Regions from separate parts of the Homo sapiens genome. Here region 1 is linked to region 2. A link means that fine-mapping ties the variant in region 2 to the plasma level of a protein whose gene starts in the linked region. Region 2 holds a variant in brackets. A gene starts in the other region. All regions are shown on their reverse strands. Region 1 holds the start of LACRT (lacritin). Region 2 has its middle 84 kb from the start of LINC03031.

The links. A credible set is the group of variants that fine-mapping cannot tell apart. PIP is the chance, under the fine-mapping model, that this variant and not a neighbour inherited with it causes the effect. Protein levels are from antibody-based Olink assays in UK Biobank. Linkage for the fine-mapping came from a reference panel and not from the study's own genotypes, which makes the PIPs less certain.
Region 1: LACRT starts here. The variant in region 2 is the best candidate, but not a certain one, in a credible set for the plasma level of the LACRT protein (UK Biobank, PIP 0.63).

What each region holds. Positions count from the first base shown.
Region 1 is chr12:54,630,731-54,639,063 of GRCh38, reverse strand. LACRT (lacritin) reads left to right here and starts at 4,169. Exons shown (of 5, transcript NM_033277.2): 1 at 4,169-4,280; 2 at 5,831-5,884; 3 at 6,683-6,823; 4 at 7,225-7,326; 5 at 8,111-8,253. The coding sequence starts at 4,223. The coding sequence ends at 8,172.
Region 2 is chr11:31,953,566-31,961,898 of GRCh38, reverse strand. No RefSeq gene overlaps it. Among named protein-coding and RNA genes, the nearest start is that of LINC03031, 84 kb to the left of the region's middle. The variant T/G (reference allele first, on the strand shown) is at 3,796.

The DNA of each region.
Region 1 (8,333 bases), not on the chromosome of region 2:
CACAATGGTTGAGCTAGTTTACACTCCCACCGATGGTGTAAAAGCATTCCTATTTCTCCACATCCTCTCCAGCACCTGTTGTTTCCTGACTTTTTAATTATTGCCATTCTAACTACTGTGAGATGATATCTCATTGTGGTTTTGATTTGCATTTCTCTGATGGCCAGTGATGATGAGCATTTTTTCATGTGTCTGCTGGCTGCATAAATCTCTTCTTTTCAAAAGTGTCTGTCCATATCCTTTGCCCACTTTTTGATGGGGTTGTTTGATTTTTTCTTGTAAATTTGTTTAAGTTCTTTGTAGATTCTGGATATTAGCCCTTTGTCAGATGGGTAGATTGCAAAAATTTTCTCCCATTCTGTAGGCTGCCTGTTCACTCTGATGGTAGTTTCTTTTGCTGTGCAGAAGCTCTTTAGTTTAATTAGATCCCATTTGTCTATTTTGGCTTTTGTTGCCATTGCTTTTGGTGTTTTAGTCATGAAGTACTTGCCCATGCCTATGTCCTGAATGGTATTGCCCAGGTTTTCTTCTAGGGTTTTTATGGTTTTAGGTCTAACATTTAAGTCTTTAATCTATCTTGAATTAATTTTTGTATAAGGTGTAAGGAAGGGATCCAGTTTCAGCTTTCTACATATGGCTAGCCAGTTTTCCCAGCACCATTTATTAAATAAGGAATCCTTTCCCCATTTCTTGTTTTTGTCAGGTTTGTCAAAGATCAGATGGTTGTAGATGTGTGGTGTTATTTCTGAGGCCTCTGTTCTGTTCCATTGGTCTATATCTGTTTTGGCACCAGTACCATGCTGTTTTGGTTACTGTAAGCTTGTAGTATAGTTTGAAGTCAGGTAATGTGATGCCTCCAGCTTTGTTCTTTTTGCTTAGGATTGTCTTGGCAATGCAGGCCCTTTTTTGGTTCCATATGAACTTTAAAGTAGTTTTTTCCACTTCTGTGAAGAAAGTCATTGGTAGCTTGATGGGGATGGCATTGAATCTCTAAATTACCTTGGGCAGTATGGCCATTTTCACGATATTGATTCTTCCTATCCAAGAGCATGGAATGTTCTTCCATTTGTTTGTGTCCTCTTATTTCATTGAGCAGTGGTTTGTGGTTCTCAGGAGGGCTTTTTTTAAAAAAGGTTCTTTAAGGAAAAATGTATCTATTATTTACAGAGATTCAAGTATGGACTAGCAACAGCAGGAAGTCTGAAGCAGCGTGTTGGGGGGTGGGGGTGAATAATGTCACCTGACAACAAGAGATGGCGCTCTGAAACAGGGACCAGACAGAAGCTGCAGTCAGAGAGAAACAGCCATTGCCACACCATGCTGCATTAAGTATCCGTGGCTGTAAAAATTATTCAAACATTTGGTGGCTTCACACATGATTTCTTATCCACAGTTGTTATGGATCAGCAGTCCAGGTACAGATGCGCCCTCAGACACAGAGTCTCTAATGAGGCTGCAGTCAAGGTATCATCGAGGCTGCGGTCACCTCAAAACTCAGCTGAGGAAAGACCCACTTCCAAGCTCAGTCACGTGGTAGCTGGCAGGGTTGAGTTCCTCACAGATAGCTGGACTAAGGGCCTCGGCTCCTTACTGGCTACAGGCTGGAGGCTGTCCTCGGTTTCTTGCCACGTAGGTCTCTCCACAGGACAGCCTCACACATGGCCACTCACTTCATCAGAGCAAGCTGAGAAGATCCAGAGACAGAGTGTGTGTAAACAAGACTAAAGTCATAGTCTCAGAACTGACTACCTCATCACTTTGCCATCTTCTATTTGTTAGGAGTGAATCTCGAGACCCAGCCCAGTTAAGCAGAGGAAATTACAGCAGGGCACCAATGCCAAGACGTAGGCATCACCAGGAGCTATCTCTGAAGTCGTCCTACCACACATGCCAAAGCAAGAGAGGGAGCAGGAGGAACAAATGCCTTAATCTCTCCCTTTTCCCACCCTCCCATCTCCCACCTGTGTCTCCCATTGGCCAAACTCAACTCGAAGCTAGAGGGCATGGGAGCCCAGGTGATACAGCCCATAGAGGCATCCTTCCAGACCAGTGCAGAGATGAGAGAGAATAAACCTGAGGCAGAGGGGAGAGAGGTACAACGAGCAGCCCATGAGACAAGACACAGATCAGCGAACTGACAGTCATCATGGAGGTCAGATAACCTAGAAAACAAGACATCACACAGAGCAGCCCCTCACCCATATCCATGAGGTCCGTCAAGACATTGCACAGAGCAGCCTCTCACCCATATCCATGAGGTCTGCCTCTTTAATCTATGCACCCAATTCTTTCCCAGGCTCTATAATTTGGGGTAACATTTCTCTGGGCCCTGTTATAGAATAATGAAAATTTTCTATAAAACAAATGTCCTTACTTTCACCTCATCCCTATTTATGTAAATGCTTGCCTCTTTAATTACTGAGGCCAGGAGGAAGATTTGGGAGAGGAAAGGGCTATGCGGTGACATTTGGAAAGACCCTGCTCTGTGACAGTTCTAGTGTTGACGCCAAAGTTCTCATTTCCTCTTAGAAAAGTCTTGTGCAAATAGCATAATTTGCTCCTGTTGACTTTTTTAATGTGCTCATGGAGACTGCTCGGGATCTAGATCTGTTTGGGATCTGCAGGACTTCTCCTTCTGCAGTGTACACACACGTGCACACACGTATGTGCACATACCCAGGGCACTGGTGCCATCAAAACTTTCTCTTGTTCTTCAGCCTTCCCCATTCCAGGTAAGGCCACCACCACCTTCAAGGCTCCCAGGCCCAGACCCTCAGGCAGGTAGCAATTGCCAAGGCTTTAATGTCCCACCCCATTAATTTTATCTTCCTTTATCTCCTGAAAAGATTAATGTTCTAAACCCTGGCACCCAAAACACCCTCATGTTGAAAACTCTTCAATACCCCCTTCTCACACTCATCTTCAGAGCTACCATGAGGCAGAGAAGCCTCCGGAATCAGCCCACATGGGGCTGGGTGAATGCCAACACCAAGCAAGGGGAAAGTCACAAATTGACATCCAGCACCTTATTCTCCACCCTTCAGCCCCTCAACTGACTCCTGCTCCACGGCCCGTTCTATTAATATCTAGCATTTAGCACCAGCCTGGACAAAAACCTACTTGGAAAGATGGTACAAGAACCCCACACAACTCCATAGAACTTCGCTGTCTAAAAAAATGCTTTGCCGTATATTATCCCACTTAATCTCCACCACTATGCTGTACATAGGAGCCACAACTCCTAGACAACAAATAAAAATCCTATCACTTTTCAAATCCTAACATTTTCATATGACAAAGCCAGAACTCAAAATCCAGACCTCTAGAGTCCCAGATCAGGAAAGGAAGAAACGCCAAGTCAAAGAGAAGCTTCTTTAGAATAATCTGCTTTTCTGGATTATTCACACCATGGGTCAGCTCCCCACTTGAAGTCAGAACCAAGCTCCAATTTCAGTGAACCACCATCATGCTTTGACCAGGAGATTCTCTCAGAAATGTGGGGTCCCATTGAGTAGGCCTGAAGACAGAGATTGACAGGCCTATGTGAGCCTGGAGGAGTTCTTTTTAGGGGCTGGATAATGTCAAGAACAGAGAACAACTCCAGAGAAGGCACACACGCCTTCAAACCCATCCCCTCATGGGGAGAAAGCAGCCAGGAACTCAGGCCTCAAGTGTTCTAGGTGTGGTCTCCCAAGGAAACGGGCTCACTTAGTTTGGGGAAACCTTCAAACCCTGCACTGAGTCCTATGTAGACTGGGACAGAAGGTGGACAATGTAATCCCCTGAGCCCTCAACCTCCTCCTGGAGAGATGACAAGATTAAGATTTCTCTACCAGAACCCTCAACAGACACATCCCAGAATCTCCCCAAGTGAAATGTGCTCTACCTACCGTCCCTGAGAGCCCAGGGGTGTGAACCCAGAGGGCAGGTGTGGTGGGGAAGGGAGGAGGGAGAAAGAAAAGGGATGGCTGGGAGTTAGAGAAAGGCTCCTATCCAGGACCTGCCTGCAAGGATCCCAGGTATCAGCCAGCCCAACCTAGCCCTTGTTGACTTAGCAGGTGACAGTTTGGGGAAGAAGGGGAGGAGGATGCGGAAGTCACACCTCTCCAGGCTTGGTTCCCATTGGCCCTTGATATCCTTAAAAGGGCCCAGCAATTTCAGCATCCTTATTCCCCAGACCTTCTGCAGATTCTGTGGTTATACTCACTCCTCATCCCAAAGAATGAAATTTACCACTCTCCTCTTCTTGGCAGCTGTAGCAGGGGCCCTGGTCTATGCTGGTGAGTATGGCCTTTCCTCTGCGCCCCACAAGAGTCCTCCCAGTCCAAGGAGCCCCTCACTCCTGCCTTCACCCCTCTCCTCCTCTCTCAGTGCTATTCTGGTTTCCCTGCCTCTGCAAGTGACTCCTCTCCCAGTTCTCCACACGTGGCCTCTGCACCCCACTGGCCAGAGGAACCCAGAACTCTCTGGCCTCTGCCTGCCCTCCCAGCTCATCTCCTCACACACCATTGTTTACCCACTATGCCTCAGCTACACTGGCTTCTCTGGTGTCCCCTGCATGTAGTTGAGCAGGGTGTCCCCTACACGAGGGTGCCCAGGCAAGGAGTGGTAGAAGCTAAAATCTGGCCGACACTCTACTTGCCAAGCAGTGAGCCTGGCCCCTGGCTGTGTCTCTTAGGAGGAAGGGATGCCTTTTTTTTTTTTTTTTTTTTGAGACCGAGTCTCCCTCTGTTGCCCAGGCTGGAGTGCAGTGGCACGATCTCTGCTCACTGCAACATCCACCTCCTGGGTTCCAGCGATTATCTTGCCTCAGCCTCCTGGGTAGCTGGGACTACAGGCTCATGCCACCTTGCCCAGCTAATTTTGTATTTTTAGTAGAGACGGTGTTTCACCATGTTGGCCAGGTTGGTCTCGAACTCCTGACCTCAGGTGATCCGACTGCCTTGGCCTCCCAAAGTGTTGGAATTACAGGCGTGAGCCACCGTGCCCTGCTGGGATGCCTTTTTTGATCCACAGAAGCACTATTTGGGCCATGATGATCCTGCTGTTCCTTGAACATCAGGATCTTCCTTCTTGTCCTTTCCTCGTCTAGAATGCTTTCCCTCTCCCTGGCCCCTTCCCCCAACCAACTCTAATGTCACCTGGCCAATGATTTTTCATCTAGAAAATCTCAGTTTACATATAATTCCCCAAAAAGGCCTTCCATGCACATGCGGAACAAATCAGATCCATGTGCCCTTCTCGCACCAGGCTGCACGTTCCCTTCCAGCACTGTCACACCAGCCATTAAATAATTTCGTAAAAGGACAGATGTAAGCTCTGTCAGGGCAGGGGTCTTGTCTGCCCTCTTCAGCACTGCACCTCCATCTCTTGGCACAGAGCTTTGCATAAATGTTGTGTTGAAAGAATAAAGGGAATCAAGGCTGGGGTCTCAATCCTGCAAATCGCTCAAATATGGCCCCATAACCCCCACATACTGTCCTCCTCCACCACAGAGGAGGTTGAGCCCCTCTGACCATGGCCAGCTCCATGACAGACACCTCAGGGAAGCCTACCAAGCCAGGGGCCAGTCAGGAGGAAGGCACTGTTCCAAGAGACATTACACTTCTCAGAGGGGAAGTTATTTCAAAAGCCACAGGAGTTAAACATCAGAGAGTGCCCCAGTAGACCCGCTGATATGGTGGAAGGGCATGTCCAACCCAAAGGGAAATTGATCCCCTTCTATCCATGAGCATTCCCAGGAGATAAGCTTTGGGAATGGGAGGGGAGGGTGGCTCGAGTAGGTCCGGTTCGGTCCTTGCTCTCATCTGGCATGTTTCCCCCATTGCAGAAGATGCCTCCTCTGACTCGACGGGTGCTGATCCTGCCCAGGAAGCTGGGACCTGTGAGTCCTCCTCTCCCTGCTGCCCTAGCCCTCGTTGGGAAGGTTTAACAGTTAGGGATGTGAGTGGTGGCTGGGAGAAGAAGCCAGTGGGAGGAGATCTGGATTCTGTGCTTGGTGGTAATGGGGAGGGGCAGGTAATATAATAAAGAAGGTGGCATGGGTTGAAATGGTACAAGGCTAAGGACAAAAGAGGATGACCCAGAGAGGCAAGGACAATAGGGAGCATGGGGAAAAGGTTATTGTGAATAAAAGGGAGAGAAACATGAGGTTAAGTGGTAAGGGCAATGTCTCACATGGCATTAATACCTTCACCTGCAAACACCTCCCATTACTCCCAATTCCTTAGCAAGATAACCATTATCTGGCCTCTAACCTCATTTTCCAACCCCATTTTCCATGACTCTCTTTTATGTCGCACCCACATCAGCTAAATTGAACTTGTTTCCATTCCCCACACATGCCTTCGCCTGACCTCTTACTCACTGCCTGCCCCCAGGGAAGCCCCTTTGGTACATCCTCTCCTGCTAACATCCTGCCTTCAAGATCCAGCTTCTCTATGAAGTGCTCCCCGATTCTCACCATCCCCTAGTCCAAATCCTTCCCCAACCCTGCCCGCTGCATTCCAAGAGACACACAGCATGCAGAAATGCTATCTCCCTTAAGGGGGCAGCGTTTAAGCCATATCACTTCTGTATCCTGGCACCCAGCACACATTAGGTATCCTGGGGCCCTGCAACCCATTCCAAAAGAAACAAACACTTTCACTTTGCTAAAATCCATCAATTTGTGCATTCACAGCTAAGCCTAATGAAGAGATCTCAGGTCCAGCAGAACCAGCTTCACCCCCAGAGACAACCACAACAGCCCAGGAGACTTCGGCGGCAGCAGTTCAGGGGACAGCCAAGGTCACCTCAAGCAGGCAGGAACTAAACCCCCTGAGTAAGTCTCTGTCTCTATGCCAGATCAACAACCTAGAAAAGTCTCTGGCTGCAGGCCCACATCACACCTCCACGCACAGAGATAAGCCTGGTGAGAAGCAGGTAGACTCAAACAGCTGAACACAAAGGCACAAATGGGATTGTGCATTGCACCCACACACAACGTTTTCACAATAGTAGATGTTGCAGCCTGCACAATACATGGTTTCTGTCCTGGCTCACACAACTTCCTATGAGAGAAGTGCTGGAGCCCTCAGCAAAACTTCTGCACTTTAGGACTTTCTGTAGGGATGATGTCCTGGGTGGAGTGGGGGTGGGGGGCGGGTGCAGGTGGGGCAATGCAGAGTTCTCTTTAAATGAGGTGATTTTTCTGCTGATGTGATTGTTCTGCTCCAAAATTAGAATCCATAGTGGAGAAAAGTATCTTACTAACAGAACAAGCCCTTGCAAAAGCAGGAAAAGGAATGCACGGAGGCGTGCCAGGTGGAAAACAATTCATCGAAAGTGAGTGCATCCCAAGGCAAGGCTTTGTGGGAATGAGAATACTCACCACCCACCATCCGGGGGTGGGATATGGGACAGAACTTGCCCCCATTTCCACCTCACATATGAGACTTGGAATTGCCACAGCCCCTGCTGTTGAAGACCCCTCACTTTGTGCTTTCATATGTTTCCAATTTCTCATCCAGATTCAAATTGCCAGCTGGGCACGGTGGTTCACGCCTGTAATCCCAGCACTTTGGGAGGCCAAGGCAGGTGGATCGCTTGAGCCCAGGAGTTCAAGACTAGCCTGGGCAACATGGCGATACCCCATCTCTACAAAAAAATACAAAAATTAGCCAGGCGTGGTGGCACATGCCTGTAGTCCCAGCTACTTGGGAGGCTAAGGTGGGAGGATCACCTGAGCCCGTGAGGCAGAGATTGCAGTGGGCCGAGATTGTGCCACTGCACTCCATCCTGGGTGACAGAGAAAGACCCTGTCTCAAAAAAAAAGAACAGATTCAATGTGCCATGTTGTCTGATATTGATTCACCTGGGGTCTAACCCCCTACCTTCCCGCAGCAGAGCCTGCTTGTTTCTATTCTTGTCCCCTGCCCCTGCCAAGGTGGGGAAGAGGGTAGGTCCTTCAGGCTCTGGTGAATCTAATCTCAATCCCTCCAACTTCTGTGTAAGCCTCTCCAGAGTCTCAGTAAGTCTGGAAAGCAGAGATGGAATTGAGGAGAAATGGAAGGGGTGGAGCTGGTGCCTGGGGTCCTAAAAGCCTCATTTGTCTCATCTTTCCTTCTAGATGGAAGTGAATTTGCACAAAAATTACTGAAGAAATTCAGTCTATTAAAACCATGGGCATGAGAAGCTGAAAAGAATGGGATCATTGGACTTAAAGCCTTAAATACCCTTGTAGCCCAGAGCTATTAAAACGAAAGCATCCAACTTGCTGTGTGCCTGTGCTCTATGGGATGGGCCCTGGAGGAAGTGCAGGGAGAAAAGCCCTCCCTGGACCAACACAAGGC
Region 2 (8,333 bases):
ATTTTAAAAGCCAACTATCATCTGCTGCCAACATTTTAATACCAAAAGAATAGTCCTTTAAATGGAGTAAGTTTATTTTCAGTTAAAAATTGCCATATTATCTTATCTTTTCACATTTCATGTAGCCTAGAGAAAAGTATGGCCCCCACCGTATTTGAGGCCCTCTTATCAATATTGATTGTGGAGTTATTCACTGTATTTGTTACTGATGATTAAAGCAACAATATGTGTGAATGAATTTTAAGTAATTTTGGCAGATTCAAAGTTATCCCATGTGGTTGCCAAAATATGCCCCTCCCATACCCACTGCCGCCCCCAGCTGCCAACCCCAAAGATGTCCACAATCCTAATTCCTACAACCTATGAATCTGTTGTATCATATGGCAAGTAGAAACTGCAAATGGAATTAAGGTTGCTAATCACCTGATCTTAAAATAGGGCAATTATCCTGGATTATTGGGGTGAACTCAGTGTAATCACAAGGCATCTTAAGTGGAGAAGAGTCAGAGAGATGGCATAGGAGTAAAGACTCATCTGACCATTGCTGGCTTTGAAGACAGAATGTGGCCACAAGCCAAGGAAGGAGGTAGCCTTTAAAATCTGGAAAAGGCAAGCAAACAATTCTCCCCTAGAGCCTGCAGAAAAAGCATAGCCCGGCCGACACCTTGATTTTAGCCCACTGGCATCCATTTAGGACTTCTGAGCTTCAGAACTGTAAGATAATACAATCGTATTGGCTTAAGCCAACAAGTTGGTGGTAATTTGTTACAGCAGCCACCTGAAGCAAATGCAGATTTCACGCAGCCTGGAGAAAAGTATGGCACCCATTTGCGTTTGAGGACTTGTGATCTACAACAGTTATGAAGTCATTCACAAATAATTTGTTACTGATAATGATTAAATCTATGTGTGAATGAGTTTTAGCAATTTTTGAGCAGATTCAAGAGTATCCCTATCACAGTGTTATTTTCCAAATTGCTTCCCTGAGTGAAAAAGACGGGGTTATAGCTGGGGCTGAAAATCATACAGAAATCATGAACGCATTTTTTTCTTTTGGATTGAGCATTTATTTTGTGCTCAAGACTGTCCTCAGTGCTTTATCTACATAATCACAGTTACCCACCCACCCCCCAAAACCTGGAAGGTAGGTACTATTCATATCACTCATTTACTTGCCCAAGATAATGCAAAGCTAGTGATCGAGCTAGGATTCGAACCTGTCATCAATGAGGAGAGTGGGTTGGGCAACCTCATGCCACTGGATAGGTGTGTTGTCATAGGTAGAGAAGGTTGAGAACCCTAACCTAGCACAGGAAGCCACACCGCTGCATATATCAGGGCCGCCTGCCCTAGCCGGGCCATACAACACGTCTGCCACTCCACTATCATCAAGCTGTGGCACTCTTTTCCCAATTTACAAAAACAAAACTTTTTAAATAATAATAATTTCAATGGAAAAGCATTTCTCAAGTTAGCTTCTTCTCTGACACATTTCTCTTAAACTTTTGTTACTTGGTTACCATTGTTTGAGTGTCTACGTGCCAAGCACTAGAGGGAGTAAAACATATTATTTGTCATTAAGTCCTCACCCCAGTATTTTCCGTCCCTTTGACAGATGAGGAAATGGAGTTTCAGAGACGTGAAGTAACTACTGCAGAGTTAAATAGCCAATAAATAGCAGGAGACTCCAGGGCTCCACAGTCAGATGTAGCCCTAAATTATCTATTTAATCCTTTAAACTTAAAACGTTAATGCTTCATGGTTTTCTGCAAAAATCCCAGTGACTTCCAAGTGCTGGACCTGAAGATTCCCGGTCTGGCATTTGCTCTTTCGATCATGTGCTGTCCTCATATGCAGTTTATTTATTAGGCCTGAGACATTGCGACTTAGCTCCAAGTTCCCTTGAGGCTATTTTCTTGAGACTTTGGAGGTTTCAAGCAAATCAGGGATTGGCTAACAAAACATTCTAAAACAGGTGAGTCATGGTTAAGTCTTACCCATAAGAGGAAGCCAAGTGTAAAGTCTGAGGGGATTCAAAGGACTCTCCCTTTCTCTCCTTCCTCACCCTGAAACCTGGCTGTGCTCCCTAGACACGTTCATAGTGGCAAAGTCATGGCTGTTTCAGCATATTAATAGGACGACTCTGGGAGCGATAAAGGCCATAGAATGGAGCCACTGAGAGAAGCTTTTGTGTCTCCAAGACTCCAACCCCTTTGATGAAACAGATGTTTGGGCCAGGCCCTCCTTTACAAGGAGAGTTAAACCTCAGTAAACAGCAGGAAAACCTCCTTGGTGGCAATGAACAGCCCACACGCTGGTCTTCCCTAGCAGCAGATGGGCTGGGGAAGGGGTGGCCTCCTGTCATCAAGCCCTGTGCCACCCGCTCAGAGACTGCAGAGCTGGTGTCTGTGACACGTGGTCGGTCACCTTGGAGGCTTTGATTTACGGTTGACTTTGGGAAAGACCAGCCTCTGACCTTGGCAGCCTGTTGCCTCACCATCTTTTCTCTAGGTTGGGAGAACTTTCCATCAAGATGGATGCACATCCCAAGTCTGGCCCCATGAAGGAGCTTCCCAGAGACCTTCTGGCTCAAATGTAGCAGGAAGGCTTGAAATGAAACCCTTTCCTCATCTGCCAGTGTCCCTGGAGCAATCTACAGACAAATGTAGGAAAATCCAGGACTAATATTGCCTCATGAGTTGAAGCTCAACATTTGAGAGTGCTGTATGTATCATCCACAGGCCCATGAAGCCTTCCTGGGTTTACTCTGAAGCATCAACTGCCCCAACTGCACAGCCAGGCTGCTCGAAAACAAAAACAAAAAAAATACATGGGAGTTACCCAAGGATGATTTTTCTCAAAATCTGCCAAGTAGTTCATTCAGTTTAGGGTGTGCGTTTGGGTAGGGTCAATTATTTCAGCAAAACTGTGGATTTAGCATTATCTTCCTTGAACCAGAAACATCTGCATAGGATGTATAAGCCAACAGGCAGTTAGAAATGGCCGAACAGGTGGGTGTAAAGAAGAAAAAAAAAATGTGTGAGCTATATTTAATTGAATACCAAAAATAGCTAATACATACTGAGCACTTACCATGGGCCACAAACTGTGCTAAGCACGTCATATGTATCCCACTCAATTCTTGCAGTGATCCTCTGAGGTTGATACTCTTATTATCCTTATTCTGTAGGAGATGAAACAGACACAGAGAGGTTAAGTAAGTTGGCCAAGGTTGCACAGCTATTAAGTGCCAAGCTGAGATTTGAACCCAGGCAACCAGGCTCCAAAGTCCATATGCTAACTACTATGATCGTCTTTAAAATCTGCCTAAAAGTAGATGGACGAGAGAGTTGCCCCTTTAAGACAAGTTAATCCTCGGTGTTCAAATTGGCTGTCTATGTGCATGTGTGTATGCGCAAGACACACGACTGCACACACTGTGAACTGAAACGTTTGGAGCTCCCAGAACCCCCCTGTTCCCATCTTATGAGTGCAGAGACACAGCTCTTCCCTCCCCAGGCATTTTGGCAGGCCAGAGGCCCGCTTAAGCCAGAGGCCTTGGCCGGCCAGGCTACCGGGAGGTGGCGCTGTGTCACTTTCCTACTCCGGAGCTTTTGTTTTCTGCGGGCTGCACGCTGGAGGTGGGGAGGCCAATTTGAGCAGAGCCTGTCGCCAATTTCCCTGATTTGAAATCTCACTCTCTTCTGTCACTTCCTTCAAATGAGCTGGGAGATGTTCAACAGATGACAGTCCTGAAAACGAGCCAAAACTGTTCTCTTAATCCCATCTCAAGAT[T/G]TATTTGAAAAGGGTGTTTCCAAACAAGGAGCAGATTTCATGTGTCAGAATTACACTCACGCTGACCTCTTGGTTTTCAAAAGGAGAGAGGAAAAACACACCCAAACTCTCAACCACCTTGTAAAAACTCAGGTGATCATCGGGCCATGGGCTCAGGCCCTGTCCACAAGGAGGTACACAAATGCCCATTCCCCGGGAAATCCCAGGGTTAGCTGGAGGATCTACCTCTCTCCTGTGCACCACATCTCTCCAGGCCTCTGTGGACTTGCCGGTCCAAGGTGGCCCACCTCCTGCCGCCCTTCAAGAGGCTTCTCTCTAAGGAGCCGAATGCTCAAGGGTTCATGGCACTGCTGACATTTTGACATTTGCACATCAAATGAGCTGTACACTGACTTATCAAAGGAAGAATCACCCAACACGGTGATGCTTAGGCCTGCAAGGGAACCTCAAAGAACTTCGTCTGTCTCCCAGTTTTCTAGATGAGAAAATTGAAGCCCAGAGACAGGAAGTAAATCTCAACCTGGTAAATGGAAGAGCTGCAAGTGGCTCTCAGAATGCCCTGGCCGGGACAGCTGCCACCGCCTTAGGATAGAGTTTTAACCCTGAGGCACAGGAGGAGGAATGGAGCTTTGGAGTCAGACAGGCCTGGTTTGAATCCCAGTGCTTTAAGTATATTTGCATGACCCTGGGAAAATCACTAAATATTTCTGAGCCTCAGTTTCATCTGGAAAATGGGACAATATACAATCTGATCATGGGATTGTGATGAAGAGTAAATAAAATAACATACACGTAGGTTTCCAACATATGTTGCTTCATCCTTGTTTATTTTTTTGTTTTTTTGTTTTGCTTTGTTTTGTTTTGGTGTTATTTTAACCCCAATCGGAGAAGCTGGTTTCAGATTGGGGCTGACCCAATGGTAGGCACGCAGGCACCTTAAGAATCTAACTGTGCTTTGTAACTATCCTGTCCTCAGACCATCAAGCTACCTTGATCTTGGCTTGCAAATGTGGAGGACTGTCTTTTCTGTCTTTTGGGATCTGGAAACAAAGTTAGCCTTAGGCACAAGGTTTTAGGAGATTTGGGAAGGCTTACCATTCCTAAACCTTTCTCTTATCTTTCTAACGCCCATCCCTTGGCAAACATGTGTGTCCTCAATGCATTGAGTAAATGCTGTAATCTGGGCACATATCTTTCTTTTTTCAACAATCAAATACCCCCATGAGTGTGATGGTGATACCAACACCTTAGCATGAATTTTTTCAATTAGATTGCTTTCTTGCTAATGTCTGCATTAAGGAGATAGAAATTTTTATGAGGATGAGAGAATGGCTAAAAAATAAGGGATGTAATTTTTAAGCTGAGCTAAGGGGGTACCCCAAGAAGAAGCTTGAGCAGCAAGATGTAGCAGGCGAACAGTGTGGATAGAGAAAGAACACTGCAGGGAAATTCAGGGATCCAGAAATAATGGCAGGAGGGCTTCAGAGTTAACCTCATCAACCTGGAAAGTTTAGTGCAGCTGGTGTCTATGTGGGTGAGGTGACTCAGGACTACTGAAATGCCTCAGTCCACCCCTGTCCCCACATACATAGCATGTGTAAGGGCCTGTAGAAACGCCCTGAGCTTGGGCCTGACTCACAGACCTTCCTACGAAGCCATGAATTTAAACTCTTCCTGACTCAGATAAGGCATGTTTCTGATGGCTGACTTGGAGGAAGACTTTCATTCAAGCCTCAGTTATTTCACTCTATGCCAGGATAGGGAGGTGACTGAGACCCTCAAGAGAATCCCAGGCCATGAGATTATCCCAGATCTCAAGAGGATCCCAAGCCAATAGGTTCCGGTTTCCATGAGAGTACAGTGACATGTGTAGGTGACCTCTCCTCCATAAGAGAGGAGTACATGTCACGGTACTCTCATGGAAACATCTTCCCATAGCCTGAGAGGCCCTGCCTGACCCAGGCTCACCACCCAGCCCTTTCTGCAGCTCTGACCCAGCCAGGCTGGGATCTTCCTGCCTGACCTTGGGAACTGCTGCACCAGCCACTGCCTCTGCCAGGTACGCTCCTCCCCATGGTCTTCACAGGGTGCGCTCCTTCTCATCATCCAGGTCTCAGCTCAAAGGTCACCTCCTCAGAGAAGTCTGCCCTGCCCCACAAACCCAACGCCGCCCCACCCACCCTTCACTCCCTATCTATAGTGTCACTGGTCACTAACTATAAGCTTCGTGAGGGCGGGAGCTGTTTTGTCTCCACAGCTACATTCCAGCACACGATGAGAAGACACTCAGGAGGCTGGCAATAAAGACTGCTTTCTGAATGGATGGATTCCTCTCTCCCTTCGCTCTCCCTTATCTGTTCTCTCTCCTACTTTAGTGGGGTTGCTGTTGTTGCTGTTGTTGCTTTTGGCTAAATCATGCTCAGATTTCCAAGTGTAAAATAAGGTTGTTTTCCCTCAAGGCAGATATGCTTTCCAGCCACTATATCTTTTTCTTTCCTTCACATCTAAACTCCTTTCACAGATCACCCTCACTGCTCCAGCTCCACCATGCCTCCTGCTCACACTTCAGCAGCTCATAATGGGGCTTCTTCCTTCACCCCTAGGCTGATAAGATTCTCATGAGCAGGGTGTCTCCAGTAGCCACACAAGTTATACACTACACAACTCCAGGGGTCACCATCCCACAGACGAGGGTGTAGACGACTCCCCCTGGGGGTGTGCAGTGTGCACAGCCATGCCTGGCCACCGTGCTCGGGATCTATCTTAATCACCAACCATCTCCCTTCCTCAGGCTTGAGCCTCCTTGATCTCCTGGCAACACAACACTGTTGATCCTCTCCTCTCTGACCTGATGAAGTGCTACATTCTCCTGGTTTCCGCTCTACTCCTCTAAGGTCTCCCTCCAGCCTCCTTTCCAAATTCTTGCTACTCCCTCTTGCTAACTGGGTGTTCTCTCAGACTCTCGCCTCAGATCCACACAGCCTGCCTCAGAAATCTCTACCACAACTCCCATGGTGTCAACTCCCATGGTGTCAACAAATGACCTGCCTCTTCCCTTGTATTAGTCCATTCTCACACTGCTATAAAGAATACTACCTGAGACTGGGTAATTGTAAAGGAAAGAATTTTAATTGACCCACCGTTCCGCATGGCTGGGGAGGCCTCAGAAAATTTGCAATCATGGCAGAAGCAGGCACCTTCTTCACAAGGTGGCAGGAGAAAGAAGCATGAAGAAGGAACTTCCAAACACTTATAAAGCCATCGATCTTGTGAGAACACACTCACTATCATGAGAACAGCTTGGGGGAAACCACCGCCATGGTCCAATCACTTTCCTTCCTCAACACACGGAGATCACAGGTCCCTCCCTTGACACTTGGGGATTACAATTGGAAATGAGATTTGGGTTGGGACACAGTGCCAAATCATATCACCCCTCCTCACACACTGGCTGGACATCTCCACTTGACATGAGGGAGACTTCAAAAGCCAACTCTACCTGATGCCCAACCTTCCCAGGGTCTTGCTCTGTCTGGACCAGTATGGGGGCCATAATAGTAGGAATGTAGCAAGATGTGGCACTGGGGATGACGCTGGCATCCTGTATCTGGTAGAATCCTTCCACAGCACCCCTTTCCCCATAACTATCACCCAGGCCCACCTCATGCATAAATAGTTCCTCACGCTAAATGCTGGACTGGTGAAAGGGAGAGGAAAAACCCCCAGCTGAAACCGTCTCTGCTCTGAGAGACGGCCTGATTCCAGGGACTTCTTGGGTCACTGACACTCTTCACTGAGGAGGGAATCTGTCCATAGAGACATTGGAGGGAGCCAGCTCTGACAGGTACAGAATAAAGAGTTGGCAGGGACAGTGAGCATTTCAGAGAGAAGGAGGGAACCCCTGACAGCCGCCTGACCTGGGAGTCGGAGCCTTCTATTTACACTTGACGTCCATTGAGGATGCATGAGGAGAATGAGCACAAGACAAGAAAAGGGAAGGAAAAAGAGGGGGCAGATGCTTGCCCAGGCACCCACCTGTCAAGCTGTGGAGAAATAATGCTAGAGTCGGGAGCTGGGTCTGGGCCTTGCTGCCTCTGTCCTGGCTGAGGGCTGCCCAAGTCTAACAGACACATGTGATCCTTAAGCTGTGGCTCACTGGCCTCACATGGGAGTGGGCAAATTGCTCCCCAGAGACCATCTCAGTTGCTTCCGAAGCACTTCCCATTTTCGTGCCCCTCATAATTAATAGTGGTCAAACCCCAAGGCTACTGTACCTTTTCTGTATTTTTGTTTTTGAGTCTGTGGAAGACAGAAAGGAAGCCAGGGCTACCCTTGTTTCCTTTATGTTTAAGGACCTGTCTGGTTTTTACTGGACCCTTTCCAGAGATGGTACTACTTCCCAGGACAGCAGGTGTTTTCGATCAGAGTCCTTTCTGGACTCTGGAAATTCATCTCTTGCTGTACTGGGGTAATGTCCCACATGCCTGGGACATTCAGCCCTGAGAGAGCTGCACTGTCTACAGCAGCTGGACACACAG